2 separate regions of the Homo sapiens genome follow, and region 1 is linked to region 2. The links come from fine-mapping of genetic effects on gene expression. A gene starts in region 2. The other region holds a variant in brackets. All regions are shown on one strand. Distances are between the middles of the regions.

Region 1 (8,341 bases), 110 kb before region 2:
TTCATATTTATAGTGTTCTCTCATTCTATTCTCACTCTCCACTTGGTTTAAAACAAAAATTGTATGGTAGGAGTCTTTGTTCTTCAAAGTTTGACAGAATATTGAGTAAAACAAATCAGATATACCTAGAAAATTTCCCTTACCCTTACCATATGAAGCAATAATTTTGCTATGAAAGAATGACATGTAGAGGAGAAGGTATACAGAGGTTTGGTTGTGAATTATAAAAGTAAATTGTTCTACTATTTAATGTTTATGAAAATAAATTGCTCAGCTATGTAGAACAGTACATGCAGTAATATAATTTTCATGAGCTGCTGAAGGCATGAGCAGAACAATTATTTATTAATTTATTCCCTCATCCATTTTGTGATTCTCAGGAACCATTTATTGAACAACTGCTTTGTGCCAGGCAATTTAAGGTGGGAACAATATTTAGAAAGTTACTTTAATACAATGTGGTTAAAAGACTTAATAGGACTAAGCTTTAGGATCAAAGATGGGGAAGATAACCAAGGGATGTAAAGGCAAATTTCTCAGAGGAGGAAATGCCTGCAGTGCCTGAATTATCTCTCAAAAGAGGAACGGGGCTGGGTATGGTGGTTCACACCTCTGATCCCAGAGCTTTGGGAAGCTGAGGTGGGAGGATCTTTTGAGGCCCGAGTTTGAGACCAACCTGGGAAACATAGCAAGATTCCGTCTCTGCAAATAAATTAAAACATTAGCCAGGTGGGGTAGCACATGCCTGTAGTCCAGGCTACTCAGGAGGCTGAGGCTGGAGGATCCTTTGAGCCCAGGAGTTCTAGGTTATAGTGAGCTATGAGCATGCCACTATACTCCAGCATGGGCAACAGAGCAAGATTCTATCTCCAAGATAGTTTTTTTAAATAAAAAAGAGGAATAGGATTTTTGTCTATTTTTTACCCCTTAAGGTGGGGTTTTCCTGTGTTGCCCAGTCTGATCTCAAACTTCCAGTCTCAAGTGATCTTCCCACCCCAGCCTCCTGAGTATCTGGGATTATAGGCCTGCACCACCATGACCAACTAGACATAAGATTTAAAGAAAAAAAAAGAGAACAGTGTTCTGGTTTGGAAGAATATCATGAGCATAAGCATTTAGGTGCAAAGCAGCATAGTATATTCCATAACTCTACAAGCAGATCATTGTGACAAGAGTGTAACAGTGAGACGGAAAAGGTAGAAAACGAGGCTACTAAGGCAGATAGAGATCAGTTGGTGGAGGATCTTCTATGCCATGCAGAGGAACCTGTATTATATCTCAAGGATGGCAAATAAGATTTTTTAAAATCTTGTACTCTTATCAATTATGAGTGGCTTCCTGAAAAATTGTGTTGCAGATTCTGACTTATGATCAAATTCAAGCTAGTGGAAAATTGCTGTGATTTGGGTGGCTGTGTAGTTTATTGTCCCTAATAGGACACTTTCGGGGGAGTGAAAGGGGCACCATTGATAATTACATGAGAACAACATGTATAAGTTGTGTCTGTCTCAGGCAAAATGGACATTTGTTCATTCTAGTCATGATCAATTATTCATATCTGCCATCAGTATAAAAGGAAGAAGTGATTTTTATGATAGATAATACGGAAACCAGTGTAACATTGAACAGGCAAATAGTATGATCACACTGATATTTTAGAAAGGCCTTTTTGGCTGCATGGTGGAAGATGGATTCATCAGGGGTTAGTGCCAAGCATGAAGGTAGGGGAGACTGAATTGGAGGACATTGTCATACTCTAGGCAACAGAACACGTTGCCTTGAACTAAAGTAATGAAACAGAACTGGGGGAAGAGCAGGTATTTTTGAGGAATAGTTTAAAAGATTGCATCAATAGAGCATGAAGCAATGCATGTATGTGAGAAGAGAGTAAAAGCAAAGATGAGGGTCAAAGATTTGGCTTCAGTGACTAGGTGGATAATACTGCCACAACCAAGAAAAGTAACCACAAATGAAAGAAATATGTTTATGGGAAGATGCTAAGTTCTAGTTAAACATGTTGAGTTAGAAGTATCTTTGGTATATCCAAGTTAGCCATGCATAGAACACGCTGGTGACCATGAACCTCCTGACTTCATTTTCTTCTGTATGGTTTCTGTGCTCTTGGTTTCTCTATTTAAAAATTTCTAACCTTCAGAAGCTTCTCAAAATTGCTCCTGAAGGCTTCATTTTCTTTTTTCAGTACTATTATAGGTTTATTCTTTGTGCTTATTTGTAAAAATATATTCACTTTATTTTAAAAGATTTGTGGCACAAGAAGAAATACACATTTGTTTCAGCCCATGATCGTAATTAACTTTTTCTAGGGAATGGTGTCATAGCTTTTGTTGTTTCTCAAAAGGAATTATATAAAATAACTTTTAAAATGTTAGTGATGCATGATGAATCCTGAGGAACCCCAACATTTAAATGGCAGTAGACTAAGAGGCTTAAAGAGAGTAGCCATAGAAGTAGAAGGAGAACTGGATGATGATGGACTCAAGTTAAGAGTGAAGAAGGAAGAGTTAAGACTGGCCTGAAGGAAGAAGTTGTTAATAGGATAAATGCTGTTGAGAAGTCAGTTCAGATTATATCTGAAAAATATCCATTATATTTGGCAGCTAGCTAAAGTAATTATAGAGGTATATGGCAAAACCCAGATTGAAGGAGTTTAAGGAATAAATAGATGATGAAATGGAATCACATAATGTTGATTACTCTTTAAGAAGGTTGGATGAGAAGGAAATGGAATGGAACATAAAGAAATTGATAGCTAGCAGCAGGAAAAGCGCAGGGATCCTTTAATATTGCAGAGCATGTTTACAGGTTGTTGGAAAGAAGCTGTGTGAGTAAGATTAAGAATATGAGGGTCTGGTGCGGTGGTTCATGCCTGTAGTCCCAACACTTTGGGAGGCCGAGGCGGGTGGATCACCTGAGGTCAGGAATTCAAGACCAGCCTGACCAATATGGGGAAATCCCGTCTCTACTGAAAATACAAAAATTAGCCGGGCGTGGTGGCGTGTGCCTGTAGCCCCAGCTACTCGGGAGGCTGAGACAGGAGAATTGATTGAACCCAGGAGGCGGACGTTGCAGTGAGCCGAGATCACTCCACTGCACTCCACACTGTAGCCTGGGTGACAGAGCGAGACTTTGTCTCAAAAAAAAAAAAAAAGAATATGAGAAGCAGTTGGATAATGGATGGAAACTGATGGAAAAGCTATGACAGGAATTCTTAACCTGTTGGAGAGAGCTTGGGTATGACGTTTGTGAAAGGGAGGAGAGGAAATAGTGTACATTATGATACTCTTAGAATGTAGAATTTTCCATACTCATAGCTGTTTTTTTTTTTAAGACAGAGTCTCACTCTGTCGCCCAGGCTGGGGTGCAGTGGCTCCATCTTGGCTCTCTGCAACCTCTGCCTCCTGGGTCCAGGCAATTTTCCTGCCTCAGCCTCTTGAGTAGTTGGGACTAAAGGCACTTATCACCACACCCAGCTTTTTGTATTTTTAGTAGAGACGGAGTTTCACCATGTTGGCCAGGCTGTTATTGAACTCCTGACTTCATGTGATCCACCCACCTCGGCCTCCCAAAGTGCTGGGATTACAGGCGTGAGCCACCAAGCACAACCTCATAGCTGTTCTTGAATCCTTTTTTTTTTTTTTAAGGAAGATATTTTCAGAACACAGTTTAGGAAACATAGAAGGATTTTCAGGTAACATGTAGAGCCTAGTTGAAGTATTATTAGTATCAGTACACAAATATGAGTACAAATTAATCACTCCACAAGTTTGTGGTGATACTAATTTGCTCAGCAATGTAATATAGAGAAAGCACACAACTGGAAGGATTTTGGGCTGTAGTTTTGCCAAGACAGGTGCAAGAAAAGAATAATGCAGCAAAGAGGTCTTGGTTTGTGGCAAGAAAGTGGTTTAAATAAGATACAGTGTGGTACAAAAGGGGAGTCAAAGACAGGAGTAAATGGTGGGAAGAATGTCAAAAGGTCAAAGGAATAGTAGTCTTGCTGAGGGTGATCAGCAA[G/A]TACTGTGAGTGCAGTGGAGTGGGAGGGCTGCATGATGTCTGTGTTACCATACTCTGCTGGTTGTCCTTTTACCTGACTGCTCCTCAGTCTCCTTTTCAGACATATTTGTTCTGCCTGTGCCTTACATGTTTGTGCTTCTCATGGTTACCCTAGGCTCTGCTTTAATTTCTCCCTACTTTCTCCTGAAATTGCTATCTGTATCCTCATTATTCTTAACAATATCTTCAGCCCAGTTCTTGTGCCAGAGCTTCACATTCATATAGCTCAATTCCTACTTAACATTGCCACCTACATGTCTCAAATTCAGCAAGCCCAAAATTGAGTATACCACGTTCTGCCCCAAATATATTTCCCCCACACCCCTCAGCTTCTTTAGCTTGGTAAATAATACTTGATGGAGGCAGAGGCCTGGAAATGCAACCCTTAACTACTGTTTTTCCCTGTACTTCAGTCCAGTTGATAGACAAGCCCTATTGAATCTTAAACATCCTAGTGTTTGTGTATTTTGCTTTATCCCTACTACCACTTCCCTTAAATACTGTTCACTGTCATCTTTCACTTAGACCTGCACTGTCCAGTACCATAGCCACTAGTGTCAGGTGACTGGTCCAAATTGAGATTTGGTGTGAGTGTAAGGTACACACTGGTATTTGTAGCCTTAGTATGAACAGATAATATATATGGTCATATTCCTAATTTTTTTCGATTATATGTTAAAATGATATTTTGAATATGTAAAGTTAAATGCATTATCAAAATTTCATCTTTTTTGCCATTTTATTATATGTGGCTACTAAAAAATTATAAGTAATCAGACTGGGCGTGGTGGCTTACACCTGTAATCCTAGCACTTTGAGAAGTCAAGGCAGGAGGCTTGCTTGAGGCCGGGAGTTTGAGACCTGCCTGGGTGACATAACAAGATCCCATCTCTTAGAAAAAGAAATAGCCAGGCACAGTGGCACATACCTGTAGTACCAGCTCCTTGGGAGGCTGAGGCGGGAGGATTGCTTGAGCCCAGAAGTTCTAGGTTACAATGAGCTATGATCATGCCACTGCACTCCAGCCTCCAGCCTGGGTGACAGAACAAGATTCTCTTAAAAAGAAAAGAAAAAGAAAATTATAAATAATCTGTGGTACTCATTTTTGTCTTACCTTACAGTGCTTTCGAACAGTGCTGACAGACTGTTGAGGTAGCTTCCTAATAGGTCTCTGCCTCCAGTGTTGCTACCAGTTCCAATCCCTTATTACCCATTCTGAACCACATTGTGATTTGAGTGATTCTTTAATCTGATCCCAGCACTATCCTACTTAAAACCTTTTCATTGTTTCTTTTTTCTTTATGTCATATGCCTCAAGAGCCTGCTCATCTTGTGGCTTCATCTCTACCCCATACACATTCATTCTCATTTCTCTAAATCAGTTCTGCTTTCTTGGAACATTCTTCCTTCTCTTTCTTACCTGGCTTCTTACCTTCTTATCCTCACCTTAGACTTTCTTTCAGGAATGCTTTGCTAATCATTCAAGATAGTGGTAAGTGAATTTCTCCTCCTGTATGTTCTTCTTGCACACTGTACCCTGTCTACCCTGTAATTTCACTTGGAATTACAGTAGCAGTTGCCTATTTTGTTACCTGTATTCTTCCTCTCATAAACTCTACAGTAAAGTCAGTAAAGATACATGCTTTGCTCACCACTCTGTACACAGGACCTGTCATAGTGCTTTGCAATATAAAAGGCTCTTAGGAAATATTCATTGAATGAGTGATCTTTATATTTCAGAGAAGAATATTTTAGGAATTATGGCATAGTAATAGAATATGTGAAATGAAATCGGATTAAAGATCTCTGAAGTTAGGTGTTCAGGGAACTGAGAGGCCAGATATACTGTTCTCATTCCTTTTTCTGTCTGTGCCTCATAAATAACAGGTGACTAGTTTTCTTATTACATCTTTGTTGACATGTAATTCATGTACCATACAGTGAACCCCTTTTAAAGGATACAATTCAGTGGTTTTTAGTATAGTCACAGAGTTGTGCAACAATTACAACAGTTTTAGAAGATTTTCAGGGTGATGAGTTTTTAAAAGCCTCCCATATAATTTTTATATGCTCATCTAAGGGGGCTTATTTTTTTCTTCTCACAAATTGTTCATCTGCTAAGAAGCCAAAAGTATGGAAATGTCATATGTGTTTTGTATATGTTGAATTACTCGTGACTTTGGAAAAATTTGGTGTAAAAGAGCCAGGAATAGATGAATACCACCAAGAGGCCAGTAGATAATAGGACAGGAGATTGACTATGGAAGGTATGGGTTATATGCCTCAAAGGAAAAGGAATTTAAATCTGAGGATAAGGGAGGAATGATGTCACAGCATTGTAAGCGCTACCCTCACCTCCTGACTTGGGGTGGATGAGGTAGGAGAGAATAAAACACCTGTATTTGAGGCCTGAGAGAAGCACTGTCTTTGGGAAGGGAGTAGAGCTACCGTTTCCATTATCTGAGAGTTAAGGAAATTGTTCAGGAATTTGAAATGTAGGGCAGATTTTGTTTGCTGAGGAACAGAAAGGAATGTTTAAATGGGAGTAAGATTACAGGATGGAATTAACTAGCTGGAAGGTTTTCATAGGAGTAGGTGCAAAGAATTAAGTAATAGGGTGACATGTGAGGGGAGAATTGGGTAGTTCTCTGTCCGTCTGGAGTCAGCCAAGGCTTTTATTGGTAGGATTTTAGGTGAATAGCAAAAAGAATTAGTTATATTAAAAAATAGATGGATAACATTTGTTGACTAGTTAGGGAAAAAATCATAAGAAAAAAGAAGGTCCAAATTTCCTGGGGGACTCCACCACCGAGTGACTTACTGGTGTCATTACTGTAGACAGGATACACAAGAGGAAGAAAAAGAAGCAGCTGATTGTTTTCATCATTCTCTTTTCAGCTGCTAACTAGAATAAACATTTAGATAACCAGACTAACTGTTCCACATTTTTTCCAAAAGCATCTTAGTGAAGGGGAATACTAGAGAGGGCAAAATAATATACAATGGAAAGGCTTATTTTATAACTGTATTAAATATATCACTGTGTTAATAAGTAACGGACTATGGATAAACTTAGTATATGAAATCTTTTAAAACGATATTTCAGTAGCTTGATTTACTTGCTTTATACTAAAAACTACATTTGTTGGATTTTAATATGGTTTCAAATCAATGCCTAAAGTGTTATCAAATCAATGCCTAAAGTGTTATTGTGTATAGTTAGATTTGTTTGTAACCTGCACATTGATACTTTATAGAAAAAGTGGTGTGTACTTATGCAGAGGAATTGCTGAATATATATTTGCTTTAGGGTTATTGAAAATTAAGCATTTATTTTCCTTCTCTAGTCCAAACCCCTGATACCTCTTCAAAAAGAAACTGATTCAGAGACCCAGAAAATGGTGCTTACCAACTACATGTTCCCTCAACAGCCAAGGACTGAGGATGGTAGGAATTTCATAATCGATTTTCTTGTTAAAAACAAATACTAATTTAAAAGGTGTGAAGTGAACTTTAAGTCTCAGAGACTTTTACCAGTTTGATGGGACTTCAGAGAATTGACCAAAACAGTTTGTTTCGAAATAATGGAAAAATAGGGCACGATTTCAGGGGTTGAATTTAGAAGTATAAGTGTAGCATATGCTTCCTTAAATGATTCCTTTAAATTAAACCGCAGTGTTAAAATTGATAACTTAAAAACATTTAGCTGTATGCTAGGAATACATGTTAAGTGTTATGTGATAAGAATTATTAAACCAAGAAATATTTTCTTCACCTGTGAACTTAATATTACACTTGGATCTACACACTGGATCAGGATAATCTGTTGAACTCTGACTATAAATACTACTCTTAAATTCTTTTCTTTATTTTGCCCGACAAGGGGGAGTATACCTTTTACTACTGGGCACAGATGTTTTTATAGATTATGGTATGACGACCTTTTAGACTAACGAGCAAATTGTTTTTAGTATATGTTGTACTCTCTGCGTGTGTGTGTGTGTGTGTGTTTATTGTGTTACACTTAAAGTAACTATTTTTTATGTATCTTCTTTCTGACACCAGTGAAAATCTCTGTGGTTTGAAATTATTTATAAATTAATTCTTAGTACATAGAAACACTGAAGAAAAAATGTAAATCAGTCATTTCAATCATAAGTCTTAATTTATAAATTATACCACGGGCAAGTTAAATAGGTTCTTGAACTTCAGTTTCCTTATCTTGAAATGATGATAATAGTTCTTTTGGAGCACAGCCACATTCATT
Region 2 (8,341 bases):
TTGTAACATGCCCACGGGCTGATTCTGATGCACACTAAAGTCTGAGAATTGTTCAAAACTAGTTGTTAATCCGAGAGATCTATGGTTGGACTTCAGGAGGACCAGAAAGCATCAGTAATTGTAGCTAAAAGTGAGTTTATGTCCATATATATTTTTCTGAGTGGACAGCTTTTATTCCTTTTATCTTCAAATGAGTTCAGTGATTCTCAAATTTGGGGCTGTTCCTTGCTTTCCATTACTACCACCTCTTACCTTTGTTCATGACCTCATTATAGCTTATTCAGATTATTGCAATAACCTACCCAGTTTCTTTGCCTCTAGTCTGAACCCTTTCCAATGTATCTCCAGGTTGCAGTGACAGTCATCACTTTCTTTCTTTCCTTCCTTCCTTCCTTTCTTTTTTGAGACAGGGTCTTACTCTGTCACTCAGGCTGGAGTGCAGTGGCACAATCACAACTCATTTTCACTGTAGCCTCGAACCCCCAGGCTCAAGCAGTCCTCCCGTCTCAGCCTCCCCAGTAGCTGGGACTACAAGCATGCACCACCATGCCTGGCTACTTTTTTGTTGTTATTGTTTGGTAGAAACGGGGTCTCTCCATGTTGCCCAGGCTGGTCTCAAACTTCTGGGCTCAAGCAATCCTCCTGCCCTAGTCTCCCCAAATCCTGGGATTACAGGCATATGCCACCGCACATAGCCAGTCATTTTAGAACATGAATCTGATCAGGGTCACTCTTCAGCTCCGAGGTCTTCAGTGGCTCCCAGCTTATGATAAAGTAATCTCTACCATGACAAATAATACCCTTCATAAAGGCTTATTCCTTTGCATGCATCTCTAGTCATTTTCAGCCCAGCAATAACAGACTTTGAATCTTCTGTACCTCACTCGAGCTCTCTTTTACCTTAACCCTGCCTTTGCATATTCTACATGCTCAGTCTGGAATGCCCTTCACTGCTCCTCCTTCCCTCCTTGCCTGGGTAATTCCTATTTGTTCAATATTCAGCTTAAGCAATATTTCTTCTGGGAAGTATTCCATTAGAACTAAGTTTAAGAGGCCCTCCTGTGTGCTCTGAATTCCTCCATGCTTATACCTATGGTAATAATAATTCTCAAACATTTTGGTCTTGAGTCCCTTTACATTCTTAAAGATTATTAAGGACTGTAAAATGCTTTTATTACTATCCACATTATAAATTAAACCTGAGAAATTTGGTATTTTGAGATTCATTTAAAAATAATTATAAGCCCATTATGTTAATAGAAATGACGCATTTTTTTCTTAGAAACCGAGATTGAAGGCAAAATGATGCATTTTTATGATAAAATATTTTTCCAAAAAATTGGTGAGAAGAGTGGCATTGTTTTACATTTTTCAAACCTTTTTAATGTCTGCTTTAATAGAAGACAGCTGAATTCTCCTATCTATGTATTCTTTATTTTTTTCCAACTTTTATTGTAGGTCCAGGGGTACATGTGAAGGTTTGTTACATAGATAAATTCATGTCATGGGGGTTTGTTGTACAGATTATTTCATCATCCAGGTATTAAGCCCAGTGCTCAATAATTTTTTCTGCTCCTCTCCCTCCTTCCACCCTCCACCCTCAAGTAGACCACAGTGACTGACGTTTCCTTCTTTGTGATCATGAGTTTTCTGTGTATTCGATCTGTTGTGATATGTTTTGGTTGAAATATATGAGGGAAATCTGATCTCATAAAGATAAGGTGTTGGAAAAGGGAAAACTACTTTATAGCCTTTCCAGATAGTTCTAGATATTATTCTTTGATACGGTACCAAACTTACATGTGGTAGTTTCTTAGCCTTCATTGCAGTGTGGACTGAATCTGAAACCACATCAATTAAGCACTGAAATCCATCAATCTATCTTGCACATACCAGAGGCTTTTTGCCTTTGTAATGGCACCCACTGGCCATTTGAAAAATAGGTGTCCACTAAGTTGTAAAGATCACAAAAATGTTGACATATTTCATTATATAGTCAAAAATAAATTGTTAATATAATGCTTCTTTTACTAGAAAAGTCTTTAAGTACTGGCAAGCTGTCAAGCTCAAGCTGGTGGATACAAGTGTAATAAAATTTGTATTTTTAGGTGAAAATTCAAAGAATTACACTAGTGCTTTTTCCGGAGACAACCATTTCACTTGGGCATGTAGCGGCAGTAGTTTCCATTTTTTCACACATATTCTTTAAAAGACGTGTAAGCAAGGATGGATTTGAAAAAAAAATACAATTTTTAGTTATTTGTGAAGGACATTTTTAAAGTGAAACTAGCATACTTTAAAACCTTAAATGTTGTATGATGTGAAGAATACAAAATGCAACTACCAGTACAAGACTGGCGCCACTGCCTTGATTGCTGCTAAGGTGTCAGCAGTTTAATCTTTTACGTTACCAGTGCAAATGGCAACAAAGTGAAAAAGGTCAAGAAACTCTTAATATTATTACGAAAATCGTTTTGACCTTGCCAACTTACTGAAAAGGTCTCGGTACCCTTAGGGATCTGCGGAGGGCATTTTGGGAGCAGCTGCCATGGACTCACTACTGTTGTCTCTCATTAGGTTGCAAGTTCTATGTGAACTGTCTTTAACTGTCTGTTACGTGCCCTTGCCTAATAGTGCCTGGGACATAGCACTCAATAAACATCAACACCTGTGGAACGAGGGAATTAAAAACAGGTTATAAACAACCCCTGCACAGCCTTCATCTTACTGCCTCTTTCCTTAATTCAACCTGAACCTACGCATTTTGTAAAATTTTGTTTTTTTCACAATTAGGACGCCTGCCAACTTTTAAAAATAGTTGGAGTTGGGGTGCTGCCTGTATGTGATAAGGCTGCCCTATAGTTTGGTCAAGTGTTCTTCCGTGTTGTCCAAGAGTCATTCCTTCTTTACAGTCCCGCACCAGTAGGCCAGGCCGCTTGGTTTCCCAATCCGAGACCGGAAGGAACCGGGTAGACATGAGCACAAGACTCTCATCGACTTTTGGGGAAAACAAAAACACCGATAAAAATCCAGGCGGTGAAACGAGCAGCAACAGCCCCAGGGACCCGGGAGCTGGAGGCCGCAGCCGCGCGAGAACCGCCGGGTTGCCGGGGCGACGCTTCCGGCTGGCGCGCGCAGCCCCGGGAGCAGGGGAGTTGTGAAATGGGCGGCTAGATCTGCCCGGCGCTGTGAATTCGCCAGCGGGAGCGCGCTCGCGGCCGCGCGTTCTCCGCTTTCCCGGCTCCGTCGCTGACGCGTCGTAGACGTTGGGGAGCGGGAAGGCAACGGCAGCGGGATCGGGATGAACAGCGGCGGCGGCTTCGGTTTGGGCTTAGGCTTCGGCCTCACCCCCACGTCGGTGATTCAGGTGACGAATCTGTCGTCGGCGGTGACCAGCGAGCAGATGCGGACGCTTTTTTCCTTCCTAGGAGAAATCGAGGAGCTGCGGCTCTACCCCCCGGAGTAAGTGCTGGAGCTCGGCTGGGGGAGGGGCGCGGGCGCCATAGAGACCTCGGGAGCCGAGGCGTGGAGGAGAGCGCGGACGCGGGCGCGCGGTGCATGTCACGTGATCGCGCCGGCTTACCTTGGTGCCCATATTTGATTAGGGCACCCGGGTTCCGCCGTCCTGCTCTCCTTAGTCGGATTTGGGGGGTTAACTACTGCACGGAGCCCTTACCAAGGATTTAGAATGGTTGCCCTTTCTGTGCCTCCGGGACTTGTGTTCGCTGCTGGGTCTTCGAATTCCGTGCCCCCACCCTCTTATTTCCCCCCGAACTTAAGATGGCCGCAGGTGGGCCCGGAACAGCCCTCATGGCAAACGTCTCAGAGCGTTTTTCCACTCTGAAAATCGCGGAGACCGCGCCTGAGCCACAGTCCAGTTTTTAAGGCCTTGGTGTCAGGCCGTTTTGCTGACGAGAAAGCCTGCTGCTGGTGACAAGATGGAACTGGGGCTGTGTTTGTTTCCCAGGACGGTCGCACAAACTTAGCATTTTGGTTTATCTAACCGAGCGCATCCATGTTCCCAAAGATCATGTCTGTTAGCCCTTTTGACAGCAGATTAAATTTTCCTCCTGAAAGGTCACACTGTCCCAAAGCTTTCAGAAAAAGTGTAAGTCGGTGCAGGGTTATCCCTCCCGTATACATTTAAAGTCCAGATCTTGGCTGGCATTCACAGCTCGCGGCCACTTCCCAGATAGTGTATTTTGGAATGGTAAAATTTCCCTCGTACGATATTATTTAGAAAACTCGCAAGGGGTTTGTAGGTTGTTCACATTCTTGCACACAAACTTTTTTTCTTTTTTAATGGTAGATCTTACAGTATTAAGATCCTCCGTTTTTTGTTCATTATATCAAAATCCTTTGAGGGAAGGGGTAATTGTTACCCAAGATTTATTTCTTTAAAAAAATTTTGATTTATTTCCTAGTGATGCATTTAGACCTATTTTTCTTTAGTTTTCTATCTCAGGTTATAACAGTGCTGTTGCATAACTATATAAAAGTTGTGTGGATATTTAAAATTTACTTTTTAAGTTTTTCTTCTCTGCTTTTTGTTTTGGAATATTTCATGCATACAGAAAAGTTGAAAGAGTAATACATTGAACATCCATGTTCCTTTTACGAGCATTTTGTCTGTTTTTGGCTACAGTTGATTATTAAAATTTCCCCAGTTATTTTAATAATGCTTTTTTGTCTGCTTTTGATCTAGTATGTAATTAGATAACACTGTCTCCCTTGAATATGCCAAGTAATCCATGTATTAATAGTTATCTCCTTTAATCTAGGACAGTCCCGTCCCCTTTTAAAGATTCTAAAGTCGTGACATTGATATTTTGTTTTGTAGTTCATTTTGTCTTGTAATATGACTCATAATCTGAGTTTATATAGATGAGATATATAGATGAGGTATATAGAGATATGTGTATATATATATCTTTATATTCGTGACGAGATTCAGGTAATACATTTTTGACGAGAATACTGCATAAGTGCACGCACGTACATTTTGATTGATTAACCGTGGCATTATTGCTTTAATTATCTTAACTTTTGGAAATGCTTTCAGCCATCTCAATTTAAGTTCTCAGAACATTTCTTAATAGTTGAGAATAATTGAGAATTGTTTGGGGGAGTGCCGTATCCTGCAGGCATTGGAATCAATCAGTAAAATACTTTGTACATGAACCTTTGTAAATCTTGCTTTCAAGGCTGTGGTAATAAGGTATCTCATAGGTAGAAGAAATATATTGGAGAATGTTCTTCATTATCAACATAATATTTATTTGGTTGAAACCTGGGTTTGGGTGACAACACATTGCCATAACTGACAGTAATGGGCCACTTTTTTGAAATCAGATGTTATTACTTGGAATTTAAAAGTCAAAGAGAATAAAAAGTTCTTCACTTAAACATATGGAAGATTACGGTAGTGTATTTCACAAACTGTAACACATTAAGCAAAATTGTTGCATACGTGTAATATATATAGGCCAGGCAAAATCCTTAACTAGTTTTTCCCTAAGTGCAATACTAGATCCCTCATTCATGTTTTGCAGCAATACTGACATGCTTTATTCACAGGTTTTCTGCTTCGTAATGAAGTTGTCATTGCCTGGTCCTTATATTAGAAGACGTGTTTGCAAATTTGGACTGAAATGGATACAAAATGCAATAGTAGTAGTTGTATTGAAAATATATTGTTTTGCAGTGTCACATAAATTATTTTATGACATCTTTAGAGTTGAGTAGAAATTTAAATTGTTTTAAAATTGGAAATATATTTATTTTCAAATACATATTTCCAGGTATATTGGAAATACATTAATAGAATGTGAAAATAGTTTCTCATTAAAATTTTATGATTGAGCCAGGTGTGGTGGTGTGCACCTATAGTCCTAGCTACTCAGGAGGCTGAGGTGGGAGAACAGCTTGAGCCCAGGAGTTTGATTCCAACCTGAGTAACATATTGAGACCCCTATCTCTTAAAAAAAAATGACTTAAATGACTTAAGTTGCTAATATGAAAATTCAGATTTTAAATTTAATTCTTTTGGCATGATGCAGTGGTTGAGTTTCATCTTTATCTTTTAAACGTTAAGAATTTTTTAAGGCTAGGGAATTCTTGTGAACATTCACTGTAAGCATTAAGAATTCTTATTTGTAGTTTGTCATCCTTTTTTTGTGCTGCCAGTTGATAAATATGTAGAATTACTATTAACTTTTTGCACAATAAATCAATCTCACAGCTTGTGAAACTTTCTTACACAAGTAAGAAATCCTTGTTGTTTTTTCAGTAAATTTTTCATTGAGGTTTAATGTACCTACAGAGAAGTGCACAGGTCGTAAGCGCAGGTTGATGAATCTTTACAAAGTAAACATACCTATATAACCAGCACACAGTCAGGATTATCTGCACCCTGTAAGTTCCCCGTGACCCCCTTCAAGTAACTAAAACCTGAAGGGTAAGCCTACCCTGATTTGTAACACTAGACATTTTTCCTGTGTTGATTTTTTTTGCTTGTTGATTTCCGTCACTTCTCTGGTCTTCTAAAGTTCTAAGAAAGAATGGAAAAATCTGTCAACTACTTAAGTTTATTTAGTTAAAAAAAATGTAACCACTAAAGCCACTTTATAGAAAATAGAGAAAAGGAAACAGCACTTGTGATCCCACCACTCTATCAAAGCTTCTCTCCATTTCCCTGTAGTCCTTTTCACATGCGTTAATAAATATTGGACATATTACCTCATTGGTTTTAAAAATAATTGTATAGTGCTATCATTATGTAATATATGTAATATAGCGTAATCAAAGGAATCACACTGTTATTTTACTTTTTTCACTTTGTCATAAGCATTTTCCATATTGCTGTCTTATTTATAGTAATATTTAGAGATTAGTAATTTCTGAGTGTATTGTGTGTTTTTGAAATTCTATTGTTGGATATTTTGATTGCTTTTTTTGGTATTACAAATTAGTGGATTTTAGCTAGAAATTGGGAGGTGTGTCTTTTTGATTGTCAACAATGATTAGAGGGCCTGTTGGCATTTAGTGGGTAAATGTTAGCAACTTATAAGTAGTCTTAAACAGGATGAATTGTGCTAATCCATAGGGCCACTGAAGCCCAGTGAAGAAACCCTGTTATAAATAATGCACCAACTAATATTTTTGTACATGATACTGTATGCTTCGCTCATGTTTTGGCATATCTTTTTTGGTAGGTCCTCTGTCCTCTAAAGGATGTGTATTAATGTACTGATAAAATACTGGACATATTATTACCTCATTGGTTTTAAAAATATTGTATAGTGCTATCATTATGTTTAATAAAAGACAAAATAACCAGTTAGGGCCAAGAAATTTAATTGATGCCCAAAAAGTTGGTTCTTTGGTTTCTGCGTGTACTACCCACTGAAAAGTTTTAATTTTTTTTGAAAAATTGATAAGATTTTGTATTTTAAAAAACCAAAACTTTAAGTCAACGAATGAGGTCAAACTAAAATCTGCTAAATTTGGGTACTGCTATTTTCTTCTTAAAATTTATTTCTAAAATTTTATTTATTTATTTAGTTAAGTAGAGACAGGATTTCACCATGTTGCGCAGGCTGGACTCAAACTCCTGGGCTTAAGCAGTCCGCCTGCTTTGGCATCCTAAAGTGCTGGGGTGACAGATGTGAGCCACTGTGCCTGGCCTGCTAGTTTCTATAGATGCATACATTTAGACCAAATGGAATATGTCATCCCTTTTTATGTGTTTTTTTTTCCCCCAAGGTCTTCTTCTGTTGCCCAGGCTGGTCTTGAACTCTTGGGCACAAGCAAGTACACATTTGTTTGATGAGCTATCTGTTTGTTGGCTTGCTACTCTAATAATTTTAGTTTATAATGGTCAAAATAAAATAGTGTTACCTTGCCTGAAATTTTCAAATATTTGCATTTTTATAAAGTAAATGTAAGTTGGTCTTTATTTTAAGGAAGGTAATTGGAAATGAAGATTAAGAAAATTGGCCGGGTGCAGTGGCCCACGCCTGTAATCCCAGCGCTTTGGGAAGCCGAGGCAGGCGGATCACGAGGTCAGGAGTTCGAGACCTGTCTGGCCAACATAGTGAAATCTTGTTTCTACTAAAAATACAAAAAATTAGCTGGGTGTGGTGGTGTGCACCTGTTATCCCAGCTACTTGGGAGGCGGCAGGAGAATCGCATGAACCCGGGAGGCGGAGGTTGCAGTGAGCCGGGATCCCGCCATTGCACTCCAGCTCGGGTGACAGTGTGAAACTCTGTCTCAAAAAAAAAAGGAAAAGAAAAGAAAAGAAAATTGCTTAAATCAGTGGAGTAGCCGTACCTAATATCC

Direction of the effects. Alleles are on the strand shown, and positions count from the first base shown. SD is a standard deviation of normalised expression in the study named.
With allele G in place of A in region 1, the expression in monocytes of the gene that starts at base 3,225 in region 2 is higher (moderate effect, 0.72 SD a copy in Fairfax 2014).

What was found.
Region 1: its variant is fine-mapped to the expression of SREK1 in monocytes (Fairfax 2014, PIP 0.95).

What each region holds. Positions count from the first base shown.
Region 1 is chr5:66,030,962-66,039,302 of GRCh38, forward strand. ERBIN (erbb2 interacting protein) reads left to right here. Exons shown (of 26, transcript NM_001253697.2): 15 at 7,422-7,521. Among named protein-coding and RNA genes, the nearest start is that of ERBIN, 110 kb to the left of the region's middle. The variant G/A (reference allele first, on the strand shown) is at 4,036.
Region 2 is chr5:66,141,076-66,149,416 of GRCh38, forward strand. It overlaps SREK1 (splicing regulatory glutamic acid and lysine rich protein 1), which reads left to right and starts at 3,225. Exons shown (of 12, transcript NM_001077199.3): 1 at 3,225-3,462. The coding sequence starts at 3,302. RefSeq lists a silencer at 3,006-3,075 and enhancers at 3,256-3,535, 3,796-3,855, 3,916-3,965.